Homo sapiens: one gene and its partners. The protein of the gene in region 1 purifies or fractionates together with the protein of each later gene. This does not show direct contact. Each region holds a gene or a part of one and is shown in the gene's direction. Other genes may lie near its edges. The genes, in order: RPS6KL1, MAP7D1, NUP210, IQGAP3, LARP4B, RPRD2 and SEC16A.

Evidence for each region.
Region 2: the proteins of RPS6KL1 (region 1) and MAP7D1 purify together in Homo sapiens (affinity purification with mass spectrometry; one large-scale study listed by BioGRID and IntAct). This does not show direct contact.
Region 3: the proteins of RPS6KL1 (region 1) and NUP210 purify together in Homo sapiens (affinity purification with mass spectrometry; one large-scale study listed by BioGRID and IntAct). This does not show direct contact.
Region 4: the proteins of RPS6KL1 (region 1) and IQGAP3 purify together in Homo sapiens (affinity purification with mass spectrometry; one large-scale study listed by BioGRID and IntAct). This does not show direct contact.
Region 5: the proteins of RPS6KL1 (region 1) and LARP4B purify together in Homo sapiens (affinity purification with mass spectrometry; one large-scale study listed by BioGRID and IntAct). This does not show direct contact.
Region 6: the proteins of RPS6KL1 (region 1) and RPRD2 purify together in Homo sapiens (affinity purification with mass spectrometry; one large-scale study listed by BioGRID and IntAct). This does not show direct contact.
Region 7: the proteins of RPS6KL1 (region 1) and SEC16A purify together in Homo sapiens (affinity purification with mass spectrometry; one large-scale study listed by BioGRID and IntAct). This does not show direct contact.

What each region holds. Positions count from the first base shown.
Region 1 is NC_000014.9:74,912,983-74,916,896, reverse strand, and holds part of RPS6KL1 (ribosomal protein S6 kinase-like 1), read left to right. Parts: intron 1-376; coding exon of another isoform or gene 377-424; intron 425-3,914.
Region 2 is NC_000001.11:36,154,622-36,159,293, forward strand, and holds the start of MAP7D1 (MAP7 domain-containing protein 1), read left to right. Parts: upstream 1-1,538; 5' UTR 1,539-1,796; coding exon 1,797-1,842; intron 1,843-4,672. UniProt on the Homo sapiens protein: Microtubule-stabilizing protein involved in the control of cell motility and neurite outgrowth. Facilitate microtubule stabilization through the maintenance of acetylated stable microtubules.
Region 3 is NC_000003.12:13,326,282-13,330,195, reverse strand, and holds part of NUP210 (nuclear pore membrane glycoprotein 210 precursor), read left to right. Parts: intron 1-1,249; coding exon 1,250-1,425; intron 1,426-2,758; coding exon 2,759-2,979; intron 2,980-3,914. UniProt on the Homo sapiens protein: Nucleoporin essential for nuclear pore assembly and fusion, nuclear pore spacing, as well as structural integrity.
Region 4 is NC_000001.11:156,527,566-156,531,065, reverse strand, and holds part of IQGAP3 (ras GTPase-activating-like protein IQGAP3), read left to right. Parts: intron 1-748; coding exon 749-961; intron 962-1,636; exon of another isoform or gene 1,637-1,736; intron 1,737-1,983; coding exon 1,984-2,150; intron 2,151-2,455; coding exon 2,456-2,557; intron 2,558-3,005; coding exon 3,006-3,114; intron 3,115-3,500.
Region 5 is NC_000010.11:826,922-830,835, reverse strand, and holds part of LARP4B (la-related protein 4B), read left to right. Parts: intron 1-1,101; coding exon 1,102-1,155; intron 1,156-1,241; coding exon 1,242-1,451; intron 1,452-3,914. UniProt on the Homo sapiens protein: Stimulates mRNA translation.
Region 6 is NC_000001.11:150,461,398-150,465,311, forward strand, and holds part of RPRD2 (regulation of nuclear pre-mRNA domain-containing protein 2), read left to right. Parts: intron 1-3,129; coding exon 3,130-3,330; intron 3,331-3,914.
Region 7 is NC_000009.12:136,476,330-136,480,243, reverse strand, and holds part of SEC16A (protein transport protein Sec16A), read left to right. Parts: intron 1-1,413; 5' UTR 1,414-1,535; intron 1,536-2,559; 5' UTR 2,560-2,628; coding exon 2,629-3,914. UniProt on the Homo sapiens protein: Acts as a molecular scaffold that plays a key role in the organization of the endoplasmic reticulum exit sites (ERES), also known as transitional endoplasmic reticulum (tER).

The sequences.
Region 1 (3,914 bases):
GCTGAGTATGATAGGAAAACAGCGAGTTGAAGTTATATGGCTTTGTTTCTTAATGATCGGAGTTCTTAGAGTGTTTAGGTGCAGATGTACACTGTGACACAGAATTCCCCAAACTTGTTTAGCCTCAGGAAAGTGGTTTAGGAATCCAGTGTTTCGAGGCCCCTGCAGATGGAAAGCACAAATTAAAGCCAAGCCCAACCATTTTTTTTTTTTCTTGACACAGGGTCTCGCTCTGTAGCTCAGGCTGGAGTGCAGTGGCGTGATCTCGGCTCACTGCAGCCTCGACCTACCAGGCTCAAGCAATCCTCGCACCTCAGCCTCCTGAGTAGCTGGGACCACAGTCTCAAGCCCTGCTATTGTCTTCTATTTTTTGTAGAGAGATCTCGCTGTGTTGCCCAGGCTGGTCTCGAACTCCTTGCCTCAGGTGATCCTCCACCTCCGTTTAGGCCTCCCAAAGCACTTGGGATTACAGGCGTGAGCCAGTGGCCCGCCGCATTCTATTTCAGGACTACCCTTCTTTTTTTTCTTTTTTATCCTGTCTTGGGTACTCAACTTAAGGACTTCACCTCCCTCCTGAGATCCTACTTCCTTTCCCTGTGTCATGCCCAAGCCAGGAGCATCACTTTCCTCAAATTAGGAAAGGTGTTACTGCCCCTGGGCCTGGGTCCCTGCAGCCAGACTTGGATATACTGTCACCCTTGTTCCATTCCACAGCTGTGCCCAGACAGATCTGGGCAAGTGGGCAGTGCCAGCCAGCAGCAACCCTCAGGCCCAGGGAGGAAGCAAAGGGCTTGCTCGGGATGATGCTTGAGTGACCCCTAACGTGTCCGGCTGTTAGGATAACTAAGGGCTGAAGAGATGGTGGCAGGGAGCAGTGAGGTGGGTGGGTCGGGACTTGGCAAGCAGCCAGAATACCCGAGGGCCTGGCCTCAGAGCCTGGGGGCCAGGGAGACATCACCGGGTATTTGCTGAGCCTCGTGCAGGAGCCAGGCTCTGAGACAGGGTGGAGGAAGAAAAAGAAGGTCATCCAAGTCACTTCTTCTTTTATTTGGCTTAAACACAGGGGTGTTTTTTTTGTTGTTTGTTTTTTGGGTTTTTTTAGTTGTTACCAACATTTGAAAATGTGCAGATTCTTATAAAAGTCCAGATTTCCTGCTTCTCTTGAAAAAATCAGATCTGGAAACGCTGGCCTCCCATTCCCCTGTGGCAGCAGGGAGTGGAGGAGGAGATGCCTGCCTTAGACGGGGCACCAGCCCTCCTTTCTGCGCCTCCACCCTGCCTATTTGCTCACATGCCTGGCCCCTGTGGACCTTTGAGTTTAAGAACTTGTTTGAAACCTTTAGGCTTGTTTGTTCCATGGGAGAGTCCTCCTGGGATTTTGATACTTTGTGCATCTTTAAAGAAAAGGTTTACCGTGTTTCACCAAAGCTTTAATTGTCCCTCTGTCCCAAGAATTCAGTGGGTCTCTTTATTTAAAACAATTGCTCTTTTTTAAAAGGTGAGAGAAAGCACTCAGAACTGCCTTCCATCTTCCCAAATGGAAGGCTCACCCGACAGTTGTATGGAACCTTCTCATTTACAGAGCTGTGGCATTAAATCCTCACAGTCACCATGGGGGAACGAAGCCTTATAGGGTGCTGTTCAACACAGTAGTCACTAGGCACATAAGCCTCTGTGCATTCATATTCATTAAAATGAAGTCATCTGTGTCTCAGTTGCACCAGTCACATTTCAAGTGCTCAATGGCCCCATGTGGCTACTGGCTTCCATATTGGACAGTGCAGACATATAATCCTGCCATCATGATAAGAAGTTCAATTGGACAGTGCTGCATTTTAATACTTGTCCTACAGAGAATTAAACTGAGGTTCAAAGAAGTCAGCGGGGCTGGGCGCAGCGGCTCACACCCATAATCCCAACACTTTGGGGAGCCAAGGTGGGTGGATCACCTGAGGTCAGGAGTTCAAGACCAGCCTGACCAACATGGTGAAACCCCGTCTCTACTGAAAATACAAAATTAGCTGGGTGTGGTGGCACATGCCTGGAATCCCAACTACTTGGGAGGCTGAGGCAGGAGAATCGCTTGAACTTGGGAGGCAGAGATTGCAGTGAGCTGAGATCACACCATTGCACTCCAGCCTGGGCAACAACAGTGAAACTCCGTCTCAAAAAAATAAATAATAAACAAAGAAGTCAAGGCACTAGACAGTCCTCCATCCTCCAAACCACTGAGTAAAAGGAGTTTCTTGTTTGGTTGGATGAATGGGAAAATGCCTGCTGCTTTGCTGCCCTTTTGAAATATAATGAAAGAAAAAGGAGAAGAAAAAGAAAATCCCCTGAATCCTGCCGAACTCCAAGATAATCACTGTTAATGTTTTAGTCTAATTATTTCTGAATACTGAGGTTGGTTTTAATATGTTTTTAACAGAAATCTTTCAGTGTATGGATCAAGGTTTATTTCTGGCCTCCTCAGCCTTCCCTCCTTCGCTAGTTTTTTTGGACTCTGTCAGTTACAGGCCCTTGCCCAGGACCAGGTGGTGGGGAATCCCACTTGGCAAGGGACAGTGGGGAATTATCTGGGGTGTCAGGATTTGTGGGAAACTCTGTTCTCCTAAATGACTCCAGAGTTTTCTTCCTTGCTTTTTCTAACATTGCACAAGTTTGGTCAGGGAGCCAAGCCCAGGCTGGACTCGGTCTCTGGCTGTTGGAGGAGAGACCTCTGGTGGTTGGAGAGGACACCTCGCTCCTGCTGAGAAAAGGGTCCTGGGCGCTCTCATCTAGTCCACTGCCTTCCTTTCACTGATGATGGAGAAACAGGCTCAGGAGGGAAGGCCATTGCCAGGGTCACCTGGTTGTGCCCCCAGTTCCAGTAAAGTCTGCAGGGCTCCGGGATCAGCCTGTCTGGGTTCAGGTCCTGACTTGACCACTTTTTAGCAGTGGGACAGTAGGCAACATAACCTCTCTGAGGCTCAGGCCTGAATTTTGGCAGGATTGTGGGGATAAAATTAAACAACCTATGTAAAGTGCTTAGCACAGAGTAACCACTTTACAGCCAGGGTGGGCTTCCCCTCGGATGACACTGGTAATAATCACGACAGGTTATCAAGGGTGTGTTCTGCGGCAGGTGCAGGCTGCTGCTCTGCCTGAATTGCCTGCTTTAACAGAATCCTCTTCAGGACCCCCTGAAGGAAGTGCTGCTATGACCCCGTTTTGTACTTAAAAAGAGCAAGGTTCAGAGAGGCCATGTGACTTGGCAGATGTGATCACTGACATTCTCACAGCCTTTCCACTCACCAAGGGCTTTCTTGGTTTTTTGTTTTTTGTTGTTTTGTTTTGTTTTTGAGATGGAGTCTGTCTCTGTTGCCCAGACTAGAGTGCAGTGGCTTGATCTAGGCTCACTGCAACTCTGCCTCCTGAGTTCAAGTGATTATCCTACTTCAGCTTCCCAGGTAGCTGGGATTACAGGCGGGCACCACTATGCCCAGCTAATTTTTGTATTTTTAGTAGAGACGAGGTTTCACCATGTTGGCCAGGCTGGTCTTGAACTCCTGACCTCAGGTGATCCACCCGCCTTGGCCTCCCAAATTACAGGGATTACAGGCATAAGCCACCACACCTGGCCCTCACCAAGGGCTTTCAGAATGGCTTCAACAATCCAGAGATGTAGGGAAGGTAGGCATTTGGAATTCCTGGTTGGTAGATGAGAAAATCAATTCAATTTGCCCAGGATCGAAGCCCAGTGCCCCTTCCCCTACCCTGATCCCAAGCTGTGGCCTTCCTCACTGCCCAGCAGCCTGGCCTCAGGGCCCAGTTCCCACCCCGACCATGGCTGGCCACAGCCTCCCTGGGGAATGTCCGCAGGGCAGGCCAACAGCCAAGGAGTCACAACCCCAGGGTGCTGGCCTTGCCTCCAC
Region 2 (4,672 bases), on another chromosome or scaffold:
GTCCTTCCACTTTTACTCATCAATGCCTTCATCACCATTATACTTGTTTACTGAGCACTTCCTAGATGCCAGGTTCTGTGCTCAGCACTTCATTTCCATTGCCTTATTTAATCTTTACAAAGACCCCAAGATACCTCATGGCACTACTATTTTTCTGATTTTGTAGGAGAGCAAATTAGATTTTAGAAAAGTTAAGTCACTAGCTCAAGGTTACTGGCTCCAGTTGCCGCCCTTCTATCATCATCCTTTTCTAATGTTTTTGGGCCAGAGGGGACACTATTCCCTTCCCAGGCCTTCCCAAGAGTGTCCAAGCCCCCAGATACGCACACATCCCAGGACAGGCTGCTCCCAGGTTGCCTGAGCCCCTGACCCTTTTGTTTCCCACTCTATCCCTCCAAATGGCCGCTTTCTGGAGCTGCTTAAAGGAAGGAGAAACTGGAGGGAAGGGGGGCAAGGGGGACAGTATCTCACTGGGCCTAATCTCTGGACAATGAAGAACTAGAGAACTGACCTTCTAGAAGTCAGGACAAAGGGCAGGGCCAGGGTGGGCAGGGCACAGCTGCCCCTCCTCCTCCCCCGCAACCCAAGTCCCTGCAGCAGCACCACCATCATCCATCCACCTTCCCAGCAAGCTCCCCACTCTGCCCCGGGCTGGGCCTGGCTTGGCTTGAAGCCCTCACCTCAGCTGGCACCAACAAGGGGGCTGGGAGTCCATTCTGGAGGGCTGGGAAGCAGGGCTACTTTGGGGAGTGGATTCTGGAGGGGGTCACCACCCCCTCATCGACAGACCACTGGGAGAAAATCCTTCTGGGGTGATTGGCGGGGTCGTCTGGTGGGGGTGGGGGAGGTCCAGGGCTAGGACCACCCAGTTTGGAGCCGGGAGGGACCCAGCAGATTAGAGACCTGGGTAAGGCAGCTGCGCAGGGCTGTAATTACCCCCAGAGGAGCAGGGAAGACACAAGCGCAGAATGCCGGAGCAAGGGCGGCAGCAAGGCTCCCAGACCTGTCCCCAGCCCAGCCATCAGCAGGGGAGAGAAAGCGAAACCCTTTCAGGGGTCTCCTTGTGACTCTCCTTCATGCCTCCCGACGTCCCCCGGGCCGCTTTGGTTTAGGTGGGTTTGAGCGAGAATTTGGACTCGAAGCTGCCCTCTCAGCCCCAGTGCCAGAGCCCCCAAACTCCAGGGTGGGAAAGGGGAGTCCCAGCCCTGCTCCCCCTCTCCCCCAGTCCCCGCGGCGGGTGAGTCACCCGAGCGCTCCCTACTTAGTCCTCAGGCGCTGCGGCGCGTACCAAGACGCGGACGCAGGGGGAGGCAGCTAGCGCGGCGAACTCCTGGAGCCGTGGAGCCCGCTCGGCCGTGGCCGTGGGAGAGGCGCCGGGAGGCTGCGGGCGCGGGGCTCCGGGGCGGGGGCGGCGCGAACGGCGCGGACGGCGCGGGCGCGGGGGGCTGGGTCCCGGGGCGCTGCTGGGGTGGACCCCCCCGCCTCGAACTTGGTACGCGCCAGCGAGAGGCCAGGCCCAGCCCGGGCGGTACAATAGGGTTGGGCCGAGGCCGGGACTGGGCCGGCGCCGGGCGGGGAACGGGTTCGCGACCGCAGCCGAGAGACCCCGGGCGACCGGCACCTCCGAGACTCGCGGGCCACCTGCCTCGACCTTCCCCGGAGCGCCCCCGCCTCCGAGTCGCTACTTGCCGGGCCGGGCCGGGCCGGGCGTGATGCGCCGCGGGACCCCTGTCCTGGCCACTGGCCGCCGCCGCCGCCGCCGCTGAGACCCCGAGACCCCCAGTGACGCCGCAGCCATGGAGAGCGGCCCGCGTGCGGAGCTGGGGGCGGGCGCACCCCCAGGTATGCCGGGAGCCACGCGGAGGCGAGATGGGGGTAGATGGAGGGGCTGCAGGGCGGCCGAGGATGAGGCCGGCCGGCTGGGCGGGGACCCCTCCGCTGCCGCGCCCTCTGACCACTTGGAAGTTTAAAAATAAAGGCTGCGGCGGCGGCGGCTCCAGGCTCGCGATGCATCCTCTGACAGCTGCCCCCTCCCCCACCCCGGGTGCCGGACGCATCGGGCGTCGGGAGCCGCAGGGACCCCGCGCGGGAGTTGTTGGGGTGACCCTTCTGCCCCAGCTTAGTGCCATCTCAGCTTCCCCGCCCCCACGTCCCTTCCCGATTCACCCCGGGCCTTGAAGATCCTCTTCTACTGAGCTAGGGCTTCCGTCCCCTTCCCCATCCCCCGTGGCACATGTGACCCCAGCCTGAGTGTGTCGGGGGTCCATATTCTCAGGCCTGGGCCCTGCATACCGACGCCTCGGCCTTAGTGCCCGTACCCTCAGGCCCTGGCCCAGACCTCGCCCCCACCCCATCCGTCCAGCTGCCGCGCAAAGGGCCTGTTGCTGCTGCGGGCCGGCGGGGAGGGGAAAGGAGGGAGGGGAGGAGAGAGGGAGGTCTCTAGCCGCTGCTGCCAAGTAACCCGCCGGATAAAGGCGAGGGGGAGGGGGAGGCGGCATTGTTTGGGGTGAGGGCGGGAGCTGGGGAGTGGGCCGCCTCCCCTGCAGCCAGGCCTACTCTGGAGCCCACCCAGCCTGATTCGGGGAGGAGGGGGACAGAAGTAAATCTGCTTCTCCTGCCTGCCCTCCTTCCCAGCCTCTCTGGGCCCCAATCTCCCACTAGAGAATGAGGTAAAGGCTCCAAGCCGGCACTCCCTGGACCTGCCACATCATTCCCCAGCCTGAGGCTTTGATACCTCCCCCCTTACTCTCTTTTTTTCTCTCTTTCTGCCCACACCTTAGACCACCAAAGCTCCCCTCCCCTCCCTCACCCCACCAACCACCAGTGCTCAGGACTTCTGCAAATCCCATTCGGATCTGGGAGCAGCTGATGAGGGGGTGGGGACAGGTTTCTGGTTGGGCTTGGTTTTGGAGGGAGGCGATTTCTCTTTCTTCCTGGAAGGGGAGGGAAGAACATGATTATTGAAGACCCAAGTTCTGTTCCCATTGACTCAGGGGGGAGGTGGCCCCATCCCCACACCCCCATGGAGTCCTGAGCCTAATCCTGTCACCTCCCTGCCCCTTGGGGTGTGGGCACAGGATGAAACAGTTCGTGTGGGTGCGGAGAGCCCAGGATAAGGTGGGGCCAATGGGCTGTGGGTGGGCTCCTCCCCATGCCAGCGAGGATGCTTCTAGGGGACTGTCTGGGTGTGGGACCTGGGAGAACAGGGAGGGGAGGCTACCATCAGACTGGTGGGTTTCAGGAGGCTTGTAGGCTGGGCTGGAAACAAGGGTGGCTGGGTCTGTCCTGGTTTGGCTGAACCTGAGAGGGGACACCCAGGGAGGCCCAGCCTGAGTCCAACCTCAGCTTACTGGCCCTCTGCACCTGAGGGCCTCTGGCACTGGATAGTTGGGGGCCTGAATGGGGGTGGTGACTGGGATACAGAGCCTGAGCTGGTGGCTAGTTTATAATTAGGATACTTGGGTAGGATGCCTAGACTGAATATGAGAGCATGGGTGAGATGCTTGGCTCTCCTAGGGGCAGGGGGGATGTTCGGTGGGCGGGGAGGGCTGCGTCAGGGGCCGGTGGGCAGACTGCATATAGGCTTCTTGCATTGAGAGGACTCTTCTATACACAGGGATCTAGATGGAGTCACATGAGAACCTGGATCAGGATGGTGGCAGTTCCCCACACAGAATAGTCAAAGGTGACAGGAGTCCTCTGTGGGGCTTTCTGGGAGTAAATGTGCTCACAGCATGTGCCCTGTGATAGTCTGAGGCATGGGCCTGACACTCCGAGAGCATGTGACACGAACCCTGCTCCCTCTGAGTTCCTTTTTGCACTTGGACACTGAGCAGTAACAGGGGGTGGTGTGGAGTAGAGGACAAGTGTGGGGACCACTTTCAGGTCAGAAAACCTGGATGGAAATCCCAGTTAGCCATGTACTGGCTACTGGACTGGAGCAAGTGACTTACCTCCTGGAGCCACAGTTTCTGCCCCTGGAAAATAGGGGCAGTGTTGTCAACCTTGTGGGGTTAATGTGAGGGTTAGAGATGATTTAACTCAAGGAATCTGGCACGCAGACACCAGACACCTGCAATAAAGTGTTATTACCATTATTGTGGTTATGCTTCTGCAACCGGTGCCAGCAGGGAGGTATGAAATATAGGGGAGGGTGGGAGCAGGAATTGGAAGTCGATTTGTTTAAGAGTGTAGATTTTGGAATTAAACAGTTTAAGTCTCCACTTCGTAACTTACCTCTGTGTGACCTCAGTAAGTTGCTTAACCTAAGTCTTAAGTTTGCTCATCTGTAAAATGAGAATAATGCTAGAAATTATCTCATAGAGACATTGGCATCCTTAAATTAGATGAAAACAGAAAACACTTAGACTAGGCCCTGGCACATAGCCAGTGCCCAATAAGTGCTAGCCATTTGTTATTTATTTATTTATTTATTTATTTATTTATTTATTTTGAGACAGAGTCTTGCTCTTGTCACCCAGGCTGGAGTGCAATGCCACGATCTCGGCACACTGCAACCTCCGCCTCCCAGGTTCAAGCGATTCTCTTGCCTCAGCCTCCCGAGTAGCTGGGATTACAGGCGCCTGCCACCGCGCCCGGCTAATTTTTGTATTTTTAGTAGAGACAGGGTTTTGCCACATTGGCCGGGCTGGTCTCGAACTCCTGACCTCGT
Region 3 (3,914 bases), on another chromosome or scaffold:
GTTACAGAGCTGGGACTGGCACCACAGCTTCCTGACTGGAGTGCGGGTGCTCCACCCACTGTGCCTGGCCACTGATGTTATCACCACCCATGGTGGAGCTCCTGTTCTGGGCCAGCCCAGTGTCTGGAACATGGTCTGTTCTTAAGAGCATTGAATGTTGTGCTCAGTACCTGCCATACAAGTCGTGACATCCAGTACGTGACATCCACTGTGGTTTTGAGAATGAGGTGGCCCATTTTCCAGACAAGGAGACTGAGGCTCAGAGTGAGAGTGACTTGCTTAAGCTTGCATGGGGGTTGAGTGATGGGGTCTGTCTGGTTTGGGCCGTGTCCTTCTGCCATATCATGGCACTGCCCTCTGCCGTTCTGTGTTCCTTACGGATGGGACCTTCTCCATCAGCATCCCTGGGTCAGGTCCTGGGGTTTTGCTGAATGGAATTTTCTTTCCATGTCTCATCATCACCACTTGCTGAACCCTGGATGACAGAAGACACACACTCACTTAAATCTTTAGACTCTGCCTGGGTCACAGACCTCTTTCATTAATTCACATCATTTTGTTTCAAAATGGGTGCCTGGCAGCAAATCCCCCGCTCTAGTTTTTGGTGAGTGAAAGTGACTGACTGCTCATCCTATTTCAACAAATATGTACTGAGCACTAGCTGTATACCAGACACTGCACCACTGAACTTTGTTAAAGAAATTCAGACCTTTGGAGCACTAGCTTTTGAGCGAGGATAGATTTTCACCTGGACTCAGAGAAACAAGGGCTGCTGTTTATGGAGCTCGGGTTCTTGGGCTCCAGAAATCCCCATTTCCCTCCTTCCCCTGGTGGCCTGCAGGGCATGCTGTGGCCTGCTTAGCGCTGCCCCTGCGATCGAGGAGGATTTCGTTTCTTTAAATGCCCCAAGAGCCAGGTTCTCTGAAGAAACTGGACATTTGCAGCCCAGGGGGCCCTCTTGCAATGTAAATAGTGATCTCATTTATTCAAGTCATGGATTGGGACACTCCTGGGTGGGTTTTCTCATAGAGAGGCCAGTCTGCTGTGTTGGGAAGTAAGAACCTTGTCACTAGGTTGGGACACTCTGGGGAGTGTGGCCTTTACTCCTCTCAGGACCCCTAAGTCCAGCCCTGCATTGTTCCTGAGGTGGATCCTGCTGGGGGCAGGTGTCCCCTCCTTGGGAGGTGGGTTTTCCTGGAGGCCAGTCCCTGGCACTGAATCCTCATCATACCTGTATGTTGTCCCTTAGGTATCCCCTGTTTCCTACCTGAGGGTTTCCATGAGCCCTGTCCTGCACACCCAGAACAAGGAGGCCCTGGTGGCCGTGCCTTTGGGAATGACCGTGACCTTCACTGTCCACTTCCACGACAACTCTGGAGATGTCTTCCATGCTCACAGTTCGGTCCTCAACTTTGCCACTAACAGGTAGGATGTGGGCAAGGGTCATTTCTCCTATGAAGTCCTGTCTGGTACCTGGTAGAGACAACTGGGGATAACACAGAAAGTCTGCTGCTGTTGAAGGAAGATGTGTATTACTTCAGTTTCCAAGAGATGTGGGCATGCTGCACCATGCAGGGCCACGAGGAAACACCACTGCCCTTGGGGGATGTAGACCAGCTCAGAGGAAGACAGACAGGCATCAGCCCCCAAAGGAGGAAACAGGGCATGGGGCAGCTCCAGGGAGTGCTCCCCGAGGCACAGGAAATTGGCCCTTCAGCTTCGGCTGCCCACAGGTCCTGCCACAGTTGTGTTTCCCTGTTGCTGAATGCATTCAAAGACAGGTGTCAGGGGTGTTGCCTTATGGAAAGAACTGGGGTTTAGAGTCAGGCCTGGTTCTAGCCCCAGCTCTGCCCTTCGTGGGCCCTGTGAGTAGGTCACCATCCAAAAATCTGTTTCCACACCTCTCACGTTGGGCAATATGGCCTAGGTTCCAGGGCTTTCCTTCAGCTGAGGGAGTGGTCATGAGGACCGCTGGCAAACCATGGCACTCCGTGTGTGCGCACATAATTGCCATCCATCAGTTTAGGGCATGTCCTGGAGGAAATGGAGCCCAGTTCTCCCAGCCCTTTGGCTGCACTGCAGGTCATTCTGGCCTTCTTGTAGCAGGAGCACCTGATAGAGACCTAGTCAGCACTCAGGGTCAGAAGGTGTGGTGGAGGCAAGGATGCAGCCATGATCCCTAACCCAAACTGTCACCCCACGCAGTCCACACTTCTGCACCAAAGCTGCCATTGCCAACATTGACTGAGCACCTGCCCTGTGGCAGGTGCCTCCCCACTGCTGACCTCATGTAATGCTTATGCCAGGCCTGCGTCACGGTCACGTGATGATCCCCATTTTTCAGAGGAGGAAAGGGGCAGAGGCTGCTTCTGCAGTCAGGTTGCATAGTAAGGGCAGCCTTCCCTTTCTGGCATGTCCAGTTCCCTGGTGGGAAGAGCGTGAGGAAGCACTCTGGATCTCTTTCCCCTCGGGGCCTCAGCTTCCTTTCTGAAATGCAGGAATGATGCTGCTGCCACTGTTTGGCTGCGAGCTGCATGTGCTTTCTGGCATGACAAGTGAGGAGGTCGAGCCTGTGCCACCTGCCTGCAGTGGTCCCTCATCTGGGGCCACTGCTTGGTAACCTCGAGTTGGGGCCACACCTGGGACCTCAGTCAGTTGAATGCTTTGCTCAGCAGAGGACATGGATTACGTTTCTCCCTTTGGGAGTTGGAAGCTTCTTTCCCGAGACTGAGAGCCCTCCTTTCTCTCCTGTGCCTAGAGACGACTTTGTGCAGATCGGGAAGGGCCCCACCAACAACACCTGCGTTGTCCGCACAGTCAGCGTGGGCCTGACACTGCTCCGTGTGTGGGACGCAGAGCACCCGGGCCTCTCGGACTTCATGCCCCTGCCTGTCCTACAGGCCATCTCCCCAGAGCTGTCTGGGGCCATGGTGGTGGGGGACGTGCTCTGTCTGGCCACTGTTCTGACCAGCCTGGAAGGTAAGATAGATCCTGAGCAAGGGAACCTGTGGAGTCACGGACGCTTGCAAAGCTGGGTGGGGGCTACCTGGGCAGGGGCTCGGCACCAGTCACGGGGGCCTACAGGCAGACCTGCAGGATACTCAGGAGCAGTGCTCCAAAACTGCTGCCCGGAGACCAGATCCAGCCTGTGCCTGTTTTCTGCAAGTAAATTTTTGTTGGCACTCAGCTGTGCCATGCATTATGTATGGTCAGTGGCTGTTGTCACCCTACCACTGCCAGATTGTGTGGTCATAGCAGAGATTGTATGGGCTGCATAGCCCAAATGCTTATGTCCGACCTTCACAGAAAGCATTTGCCAGCCCTTTTCTGGAACAGCTCTGCCAAGTCGGTGGGGGGGTCCCCTGCCCCTGTGGGGCATCCTGTCTCTGCATAGTCTCACTCAGTTCCTCTAGCCAGGAGACACACGGATCTCTGCTGCTGCTGAGGAACTGAATTCACCATTTTAGTGAATTCTGTGGGAAGTGGCCGCCATAGTGGACAGCACAGGCTGGGAGACTTAAGCAAAGAAGGACACTGGGCTAAATCAGGGGCTTCCAAATTTCAGCCATGCCCAGGTGACCTGTAGTACATCTGTGGAACACGTGTACAATTATTTACTTAGCTTTTATTTTCAAATTGTCTCCACCTTTTTTTTTAACCTTACTAAATTCATTTTAAAAGGAGATGAAATACTACCTTTAAGGAAAAACAAATATAATTTGCCATAAATAGATTATGGTTGAGTCCTTTAATTGTACTTATTATATAATGTGATTGGCTTTTAACTCAGATGTGTATGTGGTGAAAGCTCTGAGCCTCACACCTGCTGTCTGTTGCTAAAAAGGAATTGATAAGGCAACGAAGGGATGGGGAGGGGCTGTGCTTTGGGGAAGGAGCTACAGAGGGCAGGGCCT
Region 4 (3,500 bases), on another chromosome or scaffold:
ACATCAGCCAGAAGCAGACACCTGTGCTCACCAGTAATGAGAACTCTGGAGGCCTACAGGATGAGGGATACAGCTTTAGCCTTGGGAAGCCTCGGGCTACAGAGTCATGGGGCCCCACCCCTCTCCCCACTTCACACACTGAAACAAGCACCAACACTAGGGCTATGGGGGGCACTGAGAGACCGTCTGGGAATGCTCCCCTGGAAGGCCTGCACTCAGAAGAGTGGTCTGCTAGAATGCCTGGAGGCAGGAGAAGGTAGTAGGCAGGTGGGGGGCCAGGGGCAGGTTGGGCCCGCTGGAGTGAAGACTGAACCAGGGTCTTCCCAAAGAAAAGGTGGGGATGGCCAGTAGAGGTATGTCCCAAAACAGAACAGACAGGTAAATGCCCCCAAACATCCTGTGCCGTCAGAAAGATCCATTGTTGGGAAGTCACAGCTAGTGTCTGTCCGGAATCCTTTATGCCATGGCCTGGGTTTGGTTCTCCTTTGGGCCACTCTTCCCCTGTGGTGATCTATGAGGCCCTCCCATGTGTGACACCATGCATTATGGTGTTATACCTTGATATTCTTCATAAGCGATGCCCTGCCCCAGCCATATCCTGCAGAGGCTGGGCTCTGGGGCACTTTCTTAATGATATGCAGAAAAATGCTCAGGCCTCCCTTTGTTGCTGGTGCCCATGGGACCTTCACTGGTGTGGGAGCAGAATGGTAGGACCTGGTAGACCCCTCCAGCGTCTGTGTGTCCCCAGGAAGCAGCCCACAAGCAGCTGATGAGCCGACGCCAGGCCTGTACAGCCCAGACACCGGAGCCACTGCGACGACACCGCTCACTGACAGCTCACTCCCTCCTGCCACTGGCAGAGAAGCAGCGGCGCGTCCTGCGGAACCTACGCCGACTTGAAGCCCTGGGGTTGGTCAGCGCCAGAAATGGCTACCAGGGGCTAGTGGACGAGCTGGCCAAGGTAACAACCTGGGCCTGGGCTCCGTGTGCCTGTGTGTACGTGTGTGTGTGTGCGTGCATATACATGTTAATCCATAGTGTTGGTGGGCCCCTCCTGATGAGTCCTCACCCAAAATTGTCACCAGCCAGAGGAAGGCTGAGGGTCCTTTTTGAAGGAAAGATTTTTTTTTCTTTTTTTTTTTTTTTTTTGAGACAGTCTCACTCTCATCCAGGCTGGAGAGCAGTGGTGTGATCCTGGCTCACTGCAACCTTCACCTCCTGGGTTCAAGTGATTCTCCTGCCTCAGCCTCCCAAGTAGCTGGGATTACAGGTGCGCGCTGCCATGCCCGGCTAATTTTTGTATTTTTAGTAGAGACACGGTTTCAGGCCATGTTGGCCTGGCTGGTTTCGAACTCCTGACCTCAGGGTCCGCCCATCTTGGCCTCCCAAAATGCTGGGATTACAGGTGTGAGCCACTGCACCCAGCCAAATTTTTGTATTTTTAGTAGAGACAGGGTTTCACCATGTTGGCCAGGCTGGTCTCAAACTCCTGACCTCAAGTAATCTGCCCACCTTAGGCTCTCACAAAGTGCTGGGATTACAGGTGTGAATCACCACTCCTAGCCTGAAGGAAAGATCTTGAAATTAGTTAGAGAGGAAGGTGTTCTTGCAACTCTCTTTTTTTTTTTCTTCCCCACATTAGCTGGGTAATGTGCCCAGGTCAGAAGGTTTGAGAGAAGCATATCTCACACAAGAGCATGAAAACCCAATCCTCAGCTTATGACCTACAAAAGTATCCTTGCAACTTTCTTTTACTAAAAAACAAACAGCCTTGAAACCAGTTAGTCCTCAACGGGCAGAGGCCCTGAGGACATGCCTTGAGGATTTGGAATACCATCCTTGAGATTTTCCTTCTAGGAAAACAGCCTTGAAGCCTGTTCTTCCGAAGAGCCTCACAGTGTGTAGCTCTTGGGCCTGTGTCAGGCCCTAAGGCTCTCCTGCCAGGAAGGACCACTCATCCCTCCATCTGTTCCCCAACCCCAGGACATCCGCAACCAGCACAGACACAGGCACAGGCGGAAGGCAGAGCTGGTGAAGCTGCAGGCCACATTACAGGGCCTGAGCACTAAGACCACCTTCTATGAGGAGCAGGGTGACTACTACAGCCAGTACATCCGGGCCTGCCTGGACCACCTGGCCCCCGACTCCAAGTAGGTGCTGCTTTCCCGTACTTGGAAGGTTACGAGTGACTTCTCACCCCTGCCCATGTCACCTTTGCCCTGCTATCTCCCAGCTTTGAAAGGGGAATCTCACCCAGCACAGCACAGTCCCTTCCTAAGTCTGGTCTTTGAGCCTCATTTACAAAGTCTTGGGCTCAAGTGCAGCCCCCCTCCTCTGTCTTCCATCAGTGAGAAGTCTTCCTCGGGGTCTCATTTCCTTTCCAGCCACAGAAAACAAGTTTCTTTGGTGGTAAAGTGTTTATTGGATGAATTCTCTGGGGCCTTCTTTTAATCAGGAGTTCTGGGAAGGGGAAGAAGCAGCCTTCTCTTCATTACACTGCTGCTCAGCTCCTGGAAAAGGGTGTCTTGGTGGAAATTGAAGATCTTCCCGCCTCTCAGTATGTGTCTTTGGAGGGCAGGATGTCAGCCCCTTCCTGTCCTCTAACCTGGGGGTGGAGCTCTGGGCTGGGCACCGGGTGGAAGAGAAGAAGCATGGTCCCGATCTTGAAGGAGCTGCTAGAATGATGGTGGAGACAGAGCATGCCCAGACAGAAAGTGAAGGGCTGTGGACATGGTCTAGCACAGTTCTAGATGCCCTGAGGCAGAGGGTACTGGGAAAGCTTTCCAGAGGTGAGAACAGCTGCGTAGGGCGGGGCAGATAAAGAGATGGTGTGGGGAGCAGAAGTAAAATGGAGAAGACAGCGAGCTGGGCCCTCTGGGAGTGACAGAGGGAAAACTGGTTCTGGATGACACCGCTGCCCAGGATGAGGAGCAGTGGGTGCAAGAATGTGGCTGTAGCCCTGGAAAGAGGCAGTGGGTTCCTGTTTTGAATCCTGTTCCTGACAGCTTCAGAAACGTCATCTTTGACATCACGCCGGGAGATGAGGCAGGAAAGTTTGAAGTAAATGCCAAGTTCCTGGGTGTGGACATGGAGCGATTTCAGCTTCACTATCAGGTGAGGGGACAGTCCCATGAGCCTGCAGGACATCTGCTGGGCTTTAGGTGCTGGCCTGAAGAGAGCAGCTGGCCTCACTTTCCTAGTCCTCAGATGACACCAGCTCAGTTTTTCACCCAATCAGTATCGTCTGTTCCTGAAGAGAAGGGTGGGGGTCTGTGCAGCCCAAGCCCCCCTTTCCCCATGCCCTGACACAGACCCCACTGGCAAGCATCAGGGAGAGTGGAGTGGGCTACTGGTGTCAGAAGCAGGATTAATATTTGAAGCCCTATCACATGTCAGGGACTTTACATGTTACCTCCTTTAATCCTCTCCACAGCTCTGAAGTATTATCCCTATTTTACAGGCTCTAGGCTAAAAGGTTAAGAAGCTGGCTAAGTCATAGG
Region 5 (3,914 bases), on another chromosome or scaffold:
GCATAGTTTACCAGTTTTTACTATTAGTGCATGTTGGGACTAAACTTGGGCATTGAGATTACTTGTGATGGTAAGTTTGAATATAATCTGCAGAGGAAATCAAGTTGTAGAAACTTAAATATTTGAGTGTATTTGTATGGACAATTTTTATAGCAATATAAAAAGCATGTGATTTTACTTTCTAAGGACAACAAGCTAAGCAACCTAGGAAAATCAGTTTTGTTCTTCTATCTGGGCAGAGAAGTTTTACTATTTGCAAAGTGTTTGGGGGGAAATTTGAACCTAATCTTCATCTCCCAGCAGACTTCATTGTATTTTGGAAGATGCTTTTAATGGTATTGAGAAGTAAGCTCTGTAAGGAGGCGTGAGGAGTTAGTAGTTTTCCTGCTTTTAAGGGAAGCATCTTATTTGTGAGGAAACTAACGCACATATTATAAAGTGTTAAATGGTATAAACAGTATGTGGGGTTCAGAAAAGAAAACACAGAAACCTGAAAGATGGGTTTTAATTGGATGGAGGGGGAAAAGGGGAACGGAAGATAGAGTAACCATTTTTGTGGAGTGGAGTGTGAGCTCTGCCAGCCCGTGTGGCGAATGTGGTCGGATGATATTGAATCAGGTGCAGGGCCTTCACAGTTTTATAGGGGTTTAATGTAGAATTAACATGGAGAAGAACAAGGAGATATATCAAGAATGACTTTTGGATGTTATGATCCTAATCCTTTTCCTTCCTGTCTGGTATTTCCTGAACTGCATTCTCCTAATCTGAAATTGGGATGAATACTAGGAACTCAGTATTCATCATTTTCCACCAGGTCAAGGTTCTTAGCCAGTGGTCTTTGGGAGACTTCTATGGCATCTGTTAATACTTACAAAATTGTGTACAAATCTTGTTTGTGAGAATTTGGGGTACACGTTCCATAGCTCTTATGAGGTTATTTTAAGGGATCTGTGACCCAGGGAGTGTCAAGAATCATTATTCTAGGTTCTGTTCACCATAATTTAATTATATATTTCCCTATTTGAGCTATTGAGTGAACTATTGGTGCCTCTTATTCATAAGGTTAATCGAATGGAATTTTGTACTTAATTTTGCCCTTAGGCTTACAAATACCTTCGAGAAGAAGTCAAAACTTTTCAAGGAAAACCAATTAAGGTAAGCAAGACCATTGGTTATACTTTGTTTATTTGCAAATTGATGTTCTTAAGTATTCTAATAGAAACTTACATATTTTCAAACAGGCACGGATAAAAGCAAAGGCAATAGCTATAAACACATTTTTGCCAAAGAATGGATTTAGACCCCTGGACGTGAGCCTGTATGCCCAGCAGCGCTACGCGACGTCGTTCTACTTCCCTCCCATGTACAGCCCCCAGCAGCAGTTCCCCCTGTACAGCCTGATCACTCCCCAGACGTGGTCAGCAACGCACAGCTATCTTGACCCACCCTTGGTACGTCATTTCTTTACTAGGAATTTATGTTGTAGACACTATGCTAGATAATTTGAAGGATTAAAATCCTCATCTAATAGGAAGCCAGATATGTGTGCAGTCTGACATACTAAAACAGACCTTCAAGTTATGTGGGGGATTTTAAATGTAGCTGAGAACAGAGCTTATGCATAAAGAACTTTGGATTGCTGTGAGCACAATCCTTGCACAGCCCGTCTCCCCTCTTGTCATGCAGCTCTTAGCAAGACGCAGAGGGCGATAAGTGCTGTAGTGTACCTGGCGTCCCCTACACAGAGTACAATGCAAGGGGGATTAACTGAGGAGGAAGAGGTGTTTAATAGGCTTCTGACAGCAAGGCCAAGGAGAAGGCCTGCTGTTTTACCAGCCTTATTTTACTCACTTCTCACCAGCATTAGAGTTGGTCGACAGGATTAATTTTTATGGATTTTGGCCTTTGTTAAGGCCTATGGTTGGAATTCATAAGTCTGTACTGGATCTAGACATTGTCTCTTTGTGTGCTGCTATAGATGCTTGAAAGATCAAGTGCATTCTGGGTGGGAATTAGCATGAGTTTGGTGGCATTGGATGCACGAGAGTCAGCAATACACGGATGAGCATGTCCTTGAAGCTGAAGTCTAGTTGAGAAGTGAAGATGGGTTCATGGCCTAGAGGTTTGCATGAGGTAGCAATGCAGGTTAGTTGGAATTGGAGAGATTGAAGGGTAGCATACATAGAAGGTTATGGTCAGAAAGCAGAAATTGAGTTAGTAACTTTGAGAAGAGTTCATGTCCAGGGTTTCGCTGTGGACTAAGGGAAAGACTGAGTGGTCCTCAGGGTCGGATGGCTGGGAGCCAGGCACCCTGATGTGCAGGGATGTCACCGCTGACAGGCAGAAAAGGAGGGTAGGTGCAGAGCAGAGAGAACTTGAGAAAACAAGTGCCTGTATACACGGAAAGTAAAGATACGGGTCCATGAAACAACTCAGGCTGGAAAAGTCAAACATGCCAAGGAGACACGTGTACAGAATGCCAGAACACTGACAGGTCTTATCAGGGATTGTGTTGTCATCTAGGTTGAGCTTTTCAGGTTAAGTATGAGTTTTTCAGAAGGAATCAAAGAGAAGTTTCATGAACAGAAGATGGTCGTAGATTCATGGGTGTCTGAGCTGAAGCGTACACCGGGTGGCAGGGAGTTGGGGAACGAGCTGGCAGTTTCCAGGCCTAACTGCGCAGGTGCTTAGCTGTCCTGAGGCATGTGGGCTTTGGCCTAGTGCTTGTGGGAAGGTGTCTGAGGTTTCTAAGCGGAGAAATGAAACCATACTCCATTTAGAAAATAGCTCCTAAGGCCGTGTGAAGGGCAGGTGGGGACAGGGAGAGATTTTCAGAGGACCCCAATTCCCCCTGAGTCTGGAACCACCGCAGTGTAAGAACCTTTGGTAAAGTTACTTCTGTCTCTTTTGAGTAAGTCCTGATGGTAAGAAAAGTTTCTGGCTTTTTGAAGTAGCACATTCTATAAAAGTGTACCCATAGCTGAATACTTCGTTTTCCCAAAAGCATATCATGAGAGAACCTCAGAGAGACTTGAGTCCGTAGGCTCTGGGTGTTGAAGAATCATCGCTGCACGTGGCTTGCCATGCTAGTCCTTTCAGTTCTTCCTGCAGCAGTTGCTTCTTCCGTTTCTTTAATCATGGTTGACCCTCTCGGGGATCCTTGGGGTTCTGGGTCAGCTTATGGCCTTGACTTATGTTGTATGTTCAGGTTGCGGTGTGTGCCAGACAGCTGGTCCTGCTCTGAGTCTGTGATACTGGGGCTCTCCATCGCAGCCTTTTACTTGTGCTAAAACATGTGCGTCCTTTGTTCTGCAGCTGAAGAGATTGTGCCTATTAATCCCCAACAAGTAATAATAGGAACGCATTAATAATCAACTTTATTTTTTATATATGACCAATTTTATTTTTTATCTTGAGCAAAATTACTGGAATATCAGGGCTCTGTCTGTAAAATGACTTGCTGGAAATGATTAGTCCTCATTGCTCTGCCCATGATTTACAGCCTCAGATCCAGGTCTGCATTCATGGCTCTTCAAGTGTGATGTATTTTCTTTTTCTTTGAGACAGAGTCTCTCTCTGTCGCCCAGGCTGGAGTGCAGTGGCCGGATCTTGGCTCACTGCAAGCTCCGCCTCCCGGGTTCACGCCATTCTCCTGCCTCAGCCTCTTGAGTAGCTGGGACTACAGGCGCCCGCCACTACGCCCGGATAATTTTTTTGTATTTTTAGTAGAGACGGGGTTTCACCATGTTAGCCAGGATGGTCTTGATCTCCTGACCTTTTGATCCGCCCCCCCTTGGCCTCCCAAAGTGCTGGGGTTATAGGCATGAGCCACTGCGCCCGGCCATGTGTGATGTATTTTAAAAAGTCCGATTCTTACAGAGTGAAGAGTTTCTCAAGTAGCAAATTGAAGATTC
Region 6 (3,914 bases), on another chromosome or scaffold:
TCAAAACTAGCTATTTAAAAGTTAATTACATATCTTGAATGTTTTTATGAATCATTAAATATTTCTCTACATCATTTTTAATAGCTGCATAGCATGTGGTAACTTATCTAATCCTTTATTATTAGGCACTTAGTATGTTTCCAGTTTTTTACTGTTATGAAGAATACTATAGGGCCAGGTGTGGTGGCTCACGCCACCACTTTGGGAGGTGGAGGCAGGTTGATCACTTGAGGCCAGGAGTTGGAGACAAACCTGGACAACATGGCGAAACCCCATCTCTACTTAAAAAAACAAAAATTATGGCCGAGCGTGGTGGCTCACACCTGTAATCCCAGCACTTTGGGAGGCCGAGGCGGGTGGATCACGAGGTCAAGAGATCGAGACCATCCTGGCCAACATGGTAAAACCCCGTCTCTACTAAAAATACAAAAAAATAGCCAGGCATGGTGGCGGGCGCCTGTAGTCCCAGCTGCTCGGGAGGCTAAGGCAGGAGAATGGCCTGAACCCAGGAGGCGGAGCTTGCAGTGAGCCAGGATCGCGCCACTGCACAGCCTGGGCGACAGAGCAATACTCCGTCTCAAAAAAAAACAAAAAACAAAAATTAGGCCAGGTTTGGTGGCTCACGCCTGTATTTCCAGCACTTTGGGAGGCCAAGGCAGGCGGATCACCTGAAGTCAGGAGTTCAAGACCAGCCTGGCCAACTTGGTGAAACCCTGTCTACTAAAAATACAAAAATTAGCTGGGCATGGTGGCATGCATCTGTAGTCCCAGCTACTTGGGAGGCTGAGGCAGGACAATCACTTGAACCTGGGAGGCGGGGGTTGCAGTGAGCCAAGATCACGCCACTGCACTTCAGCCTGGGCAACAGAGCAAGACTCCGTCTCAAAAAAAGAAAAAATTCGCCAGCTGTGGTGGCACGTACCTGTAATCCCAGCTACTCATAAGGCTGAGGCATAAGTATCATTTGAACCCAGAAGGCAGAGGTTGCAGTGATCCAGGATCAAGCCACTGCACTCCAGCCTGGTTGACAGAGCGAGACTCTTGTCTCAAAAAAAAACAAAAAACAAAAAAAAAACCTGTAAATTATAAAAATTTTATGAATAACCCTTTGCAAGGGTTAAGTATATAAAACCTTTTTAATGGAATTTTATTTTTATTTATTTATTTATTTATTTTGAGACAGTCTCACTCTGTCCCCCAGGCTGCTGGAGTGCAGTGGCGCGATCTCAGCTCACTGCAAGCTCCGCCTCCCAGGTCACGCCATTCTCCTGCCTCAGCCTCCTGAGTAGCTGGGACTACAGGTGCCTGCCACCACGCCCAGCTAATTTTTTGTATTTTTGGTAGAGACGGGCTTTTACCATGTTAGCCAGGATGGTCTCGATCTCCTGACCTCGTGATCTGCTCGCGTTGGCCTCCCAAAGTGCTGGGATTACAGGCGTGAGCCACCGCATCCGGCCATTTATTTATTTATTTTGAGACAAGGTCCCACTCCATCACCCAGGCTGGAGTGCAGGGGTGCAGTCATGGCTCACTGTAACCTCAAACTTCTGGGTTCAAGTGATCCTCCCACCTGAGCCTTTGAGTGGCTGAGATCACACGTGTGCACCACCACATCTGGCTAAGTTTTGTGGGTTTTTTGGTAGAGACAGTGTCTTACTATGTTGCCCAGGCTGATCTTGAACTCCTGGGCTCAAGTGTTCCTCCCATCTTGGCCTCCTAAAATGTTGGGATTACAATCATGAGCCACTGCACCCAGCCCGAAATTTTTTAAATAAATTTTGCCAGGCAAGGTGGGATACCGTGTAGTCCCAGCTACTCGGGAGGCAAATGCAGGAGGATCACTTGAAGCCAGGAATTCCAGGACGTGTAGTTCACTGTGATCACGCCTGTGAATGTCCACTGCACTCCAGCCTGAGCAACCCAGTGAGACCATATCTCAAAAACTAAATAAAAATAAAGTATTTTAATATATAACTAAATTGATATCCAAAAAAGTGCTATTTTATATGACTAATATATGAAAGCTTCTGTTGTTCCTTACCTTCTCCAGTTACTTGCCTTGTGCAGTCTACAAATCCAGCCTTAAAAAGTTGTTTAATTTCCATTTCTTCTATGAAAGATGTTAAAAATTTTTTTCCTTTGCTTCTCACTTAAGTTTCTTTGTGAAATATCTGTTCATATTTATCTTTTTTAAAATAACAAATGTTTTTCTCTTTATATATTTTATTTCCTGTGTTAAAGATCAACCCAGTGTTTTTAAATGTAAAAATATAAAGGAAATTTCTTAAATAATCTCATTTTAAAAGCTATTTCAAAAGCATATAACTTACCAGTCACATGAAATTATGCAGTGGCTGAGTTATACAACTGCAGTGGCTCTCAGCATCCAGTCAGCCAGCAGTATTTATTGAGCGCCTACAGGGCTCTGAACTGTAGGTGCCATTTGGTGGAGAAAAAAGATTGTCCAGGTGTGGTGGTACATGCCTGTAATTCCCAGCACTTTGAAAAGCCAAGGTGGGAGGATCACTGGAGGTCAAGAGTTGAAGACCACCCTGGGCAATGTAGCAAGACCCTGTCTCTATTTTTTAAAAATAAATAAGAAATATTGGGGCTCTCAAAACTATGAAAATCACTTAATACTTGTTTTTTTCAAGACAGAGTCTCACTGTGTCTCAACTCTTGTCTCACTGCAACCTCCACCTCCTGGGTTCAAATGATTCTCCTGCCTCAGCCTCCCGAGTAGCTGGGATTACAGGCGCCTGCCACCATACCCGGCTAATTTTTTATTTTTGGTAGGGACAGGGTTTCCCCATGTTGGTCAGGCTGGTCTCGAACTCCTGACCTCAGGTGATCCGCCTGCCTCGGCCTCCCAAAGTGCTGGGATTACAGGTGTGAGCCACCTCGCCCGGCCAATACTTGTTTGTTTTAATGGTGTTCCAAGTAAAAGGAGATAATCTTTTCAGGGTTTTTTTTTTTTTTTTTGTACATGTCATGTTATGATGGACCATTTGTGGATCAACCACAGAAGAATTCCTGTTAAATATATCAAACTCATTGAAGTGAGGGGAAGTATCGGAAATTGAAGTCATTTTGAATTGCATTTTCTTGAGTTCATCTTTCTGCCACCAGGGGTCAGTCCTGCATCAAGACCTTCTCCAGGAACGCCCACCAGCCCCAGCAACCTCACCAGTGGCCTGAAAACACCTGCACCTGCCACGACAACATCTCACAACCCTCTGGCAAATATCCTCTCCAAGGTGGAGATCACCCCAGAGAGCATTCTGTCTGCACTTTCCAAAACCCAGACACAGTCAGCCCCTGCACTGCAAGGTAACTGACATATGCCAGAGGGACTCGAATTGTGAATGTTTGTCTCTGGCTTAAATTAATCCTGGATTCCATTTCTGATGAATCCAGAGCCATAAAATGTATAACACAGTTAATTCATTATTCTTTTTATTTATTTATTTATTTATTTATTTAAAATTTTTGAGATGGAGTCTCACTCTGTTGCCTAGTTGGTGTGCAGTGGAGTGCTCTCGGCTCACTACAACCTCTGCCTCCTGGTTCAAGTGATTCTTCTGCCTCAGCCTCCCTAGCAGCTGGGATTACAGGCCCACACCACCATGTCTGGCTAATTTTTGTATTTTTAGTAGAGATGGGGTTTCTCCATGTTGGCCAGGCTGGTCTCAAACTCCTGGCCTCCCAAAGTGCTGGGATTATAGGCATGAGCCACCATGCCTGGTGGTCATTATCCTTTTTTTTATTTTAGACAGAATTTCACTCTTGTCGCCCAGGCTGGAGTGCAGTGGCCCAATCTCAGCTCACTGCAACCTCAGCCTCCCAAGTAGCTAGGATTACAGGTGCCCACCACCACATCCAGCTAATTTTTGTATTTTTAGTAGAGACGGAGT
Region 7 (3,914 bases), on another chromosome or scaffold:
GGTTGCAGGTGTCGCTGTGTCTGCTGTGGCTGTGCAGCTGGTAGGACCCAGTGGAAGATAATGCCAGTGCACAGATCAGAGGAAGATGCTCTGCCTGTTCTCCTTTCAGTCCATATAAAATAGAGCTGTGAACATTCTTTGTTTTCAGATGAGAGCCTAAAACCTCCATGAAGCCTTTGCTGCTGTTCCTAGTAAATAGCTTGACTTAAAATACATTGATCAGTGTTTTCTTCTTTTTTTTTTTGAGACAGTTTCACTCTGTCGCCCAGGCTGGAGTGTTGTGGCTTGAACAAGGCTCACTGCAGCCTCAACCTCCCTGGCTCAAGCGATCTTCCCACCTCAGCCTCCCGAGTAGTTGGGACTACAGGCACGCACCACCACGACCGGCATTTTTTTTTTGGTGATGGGGTATCGCTGTGTGTTGCCCAGGCTGGTCTCAAACTGCTGAACTCGAGTGGTCCTCCTACCTCCCAAAGTGCTCGGCTTACAGGTGTGAGCCACTGCACCTGGCCAGTGTTTTCTTCTTTTATCTGAATATCAGAAAGATTTCCAAGAGACCAAAATAATATACATCTGCAAAGATGTGTGGATTGGCCAGGCACGGTGGCTCACGCCTGTAATCCCAGCACTTTGGGAGGCCGAGGCGGGTGGATTATGAGGTCAGGAGATCAAGACCATCCTGGCTAACATGGTGAAACCCCATCTCTACTGAAAAGACAAAAAATTAGCCTGGCATGGTGGCAGGTGCCTGTAGTCCCAGCTGCTCAGGAGGCTGAGGCAGGAGAATGGCATGAACCTGGGAGGCGGAGCTTGCAGTGAGCCGAGATCGCACCACTGCACCCCAGTCTGGGCGACAGAGCAAGACTCCGTCTCAAAAAAAAAAATGTGTGGATTAAACTACAGAGTCCTCCCCTTTGGTTTAATTTTTCCTTTGATTGGCTAAACTTATCTGTTTGTTCATGAGGGTGGTGCTGACAAGAAGAAAGACTGATAGAAAGAAAAGAACTTTCCTAAAGATATAGTCCTTGAATTTTTGCCTTAAGAGGCCAGGTTAACTATTCAAGTTTGTATCTACTATGTTTTATTTAAAAACTGATGGAGGTTTTTGCCCCTTTCTTTTCTGTAAGAGGTTTCTTGGCAATTCTGCCTGTTGTTGAAAGTGTTGGAATCCAGTCTGTGCCTTGTAAAGCTGCTTTAAGTTTCCTGGGAGTTTCCATTCCAGGCACAGTTACGGCTCCAGTTCAAAGGTAACATCTTGCTGGTGGTCCTTTCAGACCTTAAGCCAGTCACAGTACAAAAACGGAGACCTATGAAGAGGTGTGATAAAAGGCATTTAGATGAATATATTTATTTTGCAGTGCTTTTTAAAAAAATGATTGTGTCACTTTTTATTTATTTATTTTTTTAAAATAGAGACCGTCTTGCTCTGTTGCCCAGGCTGGACCGCGGTGGTATAATCATAGCTCACTGCAGCCTCGAACTCATGGACACAAGTGATCTTCCTTCCTTAACCCCCTGAGTCCCTGGGACTACAGGTGTGTGCCACCATGTCTGGCTAACTTTCTTCTTTTGTAGAGACAAGGTCTTGCTATGTTGCCCAGGCTGGTCTCGACCTCCTGGGCTCTGGCAGTCCTTCCACCTTGACCTCCCAAAGTGCTGGGATTACAGGCATGAGCCACTGCACCCAGCCTATTTTGCAGCTTTTATAACTATACTTCATAATGCTCTTTCATCAAAGAAAATGGAAGAATGAATTTTAAACTTTTGTATCCCTTTTGAAATTTAAAATTAACATGTATGGAAAGTATGATATAAAGTTTTCCTTTTTTTTTTTTTTTTTTGAGCTAGGGACTCACTGTGTCACCCAGGCTGAAGGGTAGTGGTGCTGTCATAGCTCACGACAGCCTCAACCTCCCAGGCTGACGCAATCCTCCTGCCTCAGCCTCCTGAGTAGTTGGGACTACAGGTGTGCACCACCATGCCTGGCTGATTTTTGTATTTTTTGTAGAAACGAGATCCCCCTGTTGCTCAGGCTGGCCTCGAATTCCTGGGCTCAAGTGGTCCTCCCGCCTTGGCCTCTTAAAGTGTTGGGAGTACAGGCGTAAGCCACCATATCTGGCCAGTTTTTCTTTCTTAATAGAAGAGTTGGCTCTTCCTGGATCTAGGGATGGTTTACAGGAAAACATTGAGTATCTGTGGGTCTGGTAGCATATCACAGCAGTGGTCAGGTTCCGCACTGTCCCTGTTGTTGTGGCGCGGGTCTGCGGCAGCAATGGGCCCTGTGAGTAGAGGATCCCAGGGGAGGGAGTGGCCATCTAGACATACTCCATCAGCTCGCAGCCAGGCCATCCAGGGTTCTCACTCTGTCCCCTGCCCCCCAGAACAGTTCCTCAGGGACAGGTGTTCTCTGCTGGGGTGGGGTGTAGGGGAGAGAGAGTCCTTGGGATTTAAGTGACATAAAATCATGTTCAATGTTTCTCTTTTTCCTTAGTTTTCCTGATTGCAGCTAGGACTTTGAATATATGGATTTTATGCTGATTTTCTCTTTTTCTTTTCCAGCTCCAATTAAGGAACAGCTATATCCTGCTTCCTTCTGTAAGCAGCATCGACTTGTGCAAGGGTTCAGTCATGCAGCCACCGCCCCAGACGGTCCCGTCTGGCATGGCTGGGCCACCTCCAGCCGGGAATCCTCGGAGCGTGTTCTGGGCTAGCAGCCCTTACAGGAGACGGGCTAATAATAATGCAGCAGTGGCTCCGACAACTTGCCCGTTGCAGCCGGTCACGGATCCATTTGCTTTTAGTAGACAGGCGCTCCAAAGTACACCACTGGGCAGTTCGTCCAAAAGCAGTCCACCTGTCTTGCAAGGCCCAGCCCCCGCAGGGTTTTCTCAGCACCCCGGTTTGCTTGTTCCTCACACACATGCCAGAGATAGCTCTCAGGGACCCTGTGAGCCCCTGCCTGGACCTCTGACACAGCCCAGAGCACATGCCAGTCCGTTTTCTGGTGCATTGACACCTTCAGCACCTCCTGGGCCTGAGATGAACAGGAGTGCAGAGGTCGGTCCCAGTTCAGAGCCTGAAGTTCAGACTCTGCCATATCTTCCTCACTACATTCCAGGAGTGGATCCTGAAACGTCTCATGGGGGCCACCCTCATGGGAACATGCCTGGGCTCGACCGACCCCTGAGCAGGCAAAACCCACATGACGGTGTGGTCACCCCAGCAGCATCCCCTTCCCTCCCTCAGCCTGGTCTGCAGATGCCAGGACAGTGGGGGCCAGTGCAGGGAGGCCCACAGCCCTCGGGGCAACATCGTTCACCCTGCCCTGAAGGACCTGTTCCCAGCGGGGTGCCCTGTGCCACCAGCGTTCCTCATTTCCCCACCCCGTCCATCCTACATCAGGGCCCTGGTCATGAGCAACACAGCCCTCTGGTGGCTCCCCCAGCAGCCTTGCCCAGTGACGGAAGAGACGAGGTGAGCCACTTGCAAAGTGGAAGCCACCTGGCCAATAACTCTGATCCTGAAAGTACATTCAGGCAAAATCCCAGAATTGTGAATCACTGGGCAAGCCCAGAGCTCAGGCAGAATCCAGGAGTGAAGAATGAGCACCGGCCCGCCTCTGCTCTTGTGAACCCCCTCGCCCGGGGAGATAGCCCAGAAAACCGTACGCACCACCCACTGGGGGCTGGGGCCGGGTCTGGCTGTGCCCCGCTAGAAGCAGACTCAGGAGCTTCAGGAGCTCTGGCGATGTTTTTCCAAGGGGGAGAGACAGAAAATGAGGAGAATCTCTCATCTGAAAAAGCAGGCTTATCTGGTCAAGCGGACTTTGACGATTTCTGCTCCAGCCCTGGGCTAGGCCGTCCGCCCGCACCTACACACGTGGGGGCAGGCAGCCTCTGCCAGGCCCTTCTCCC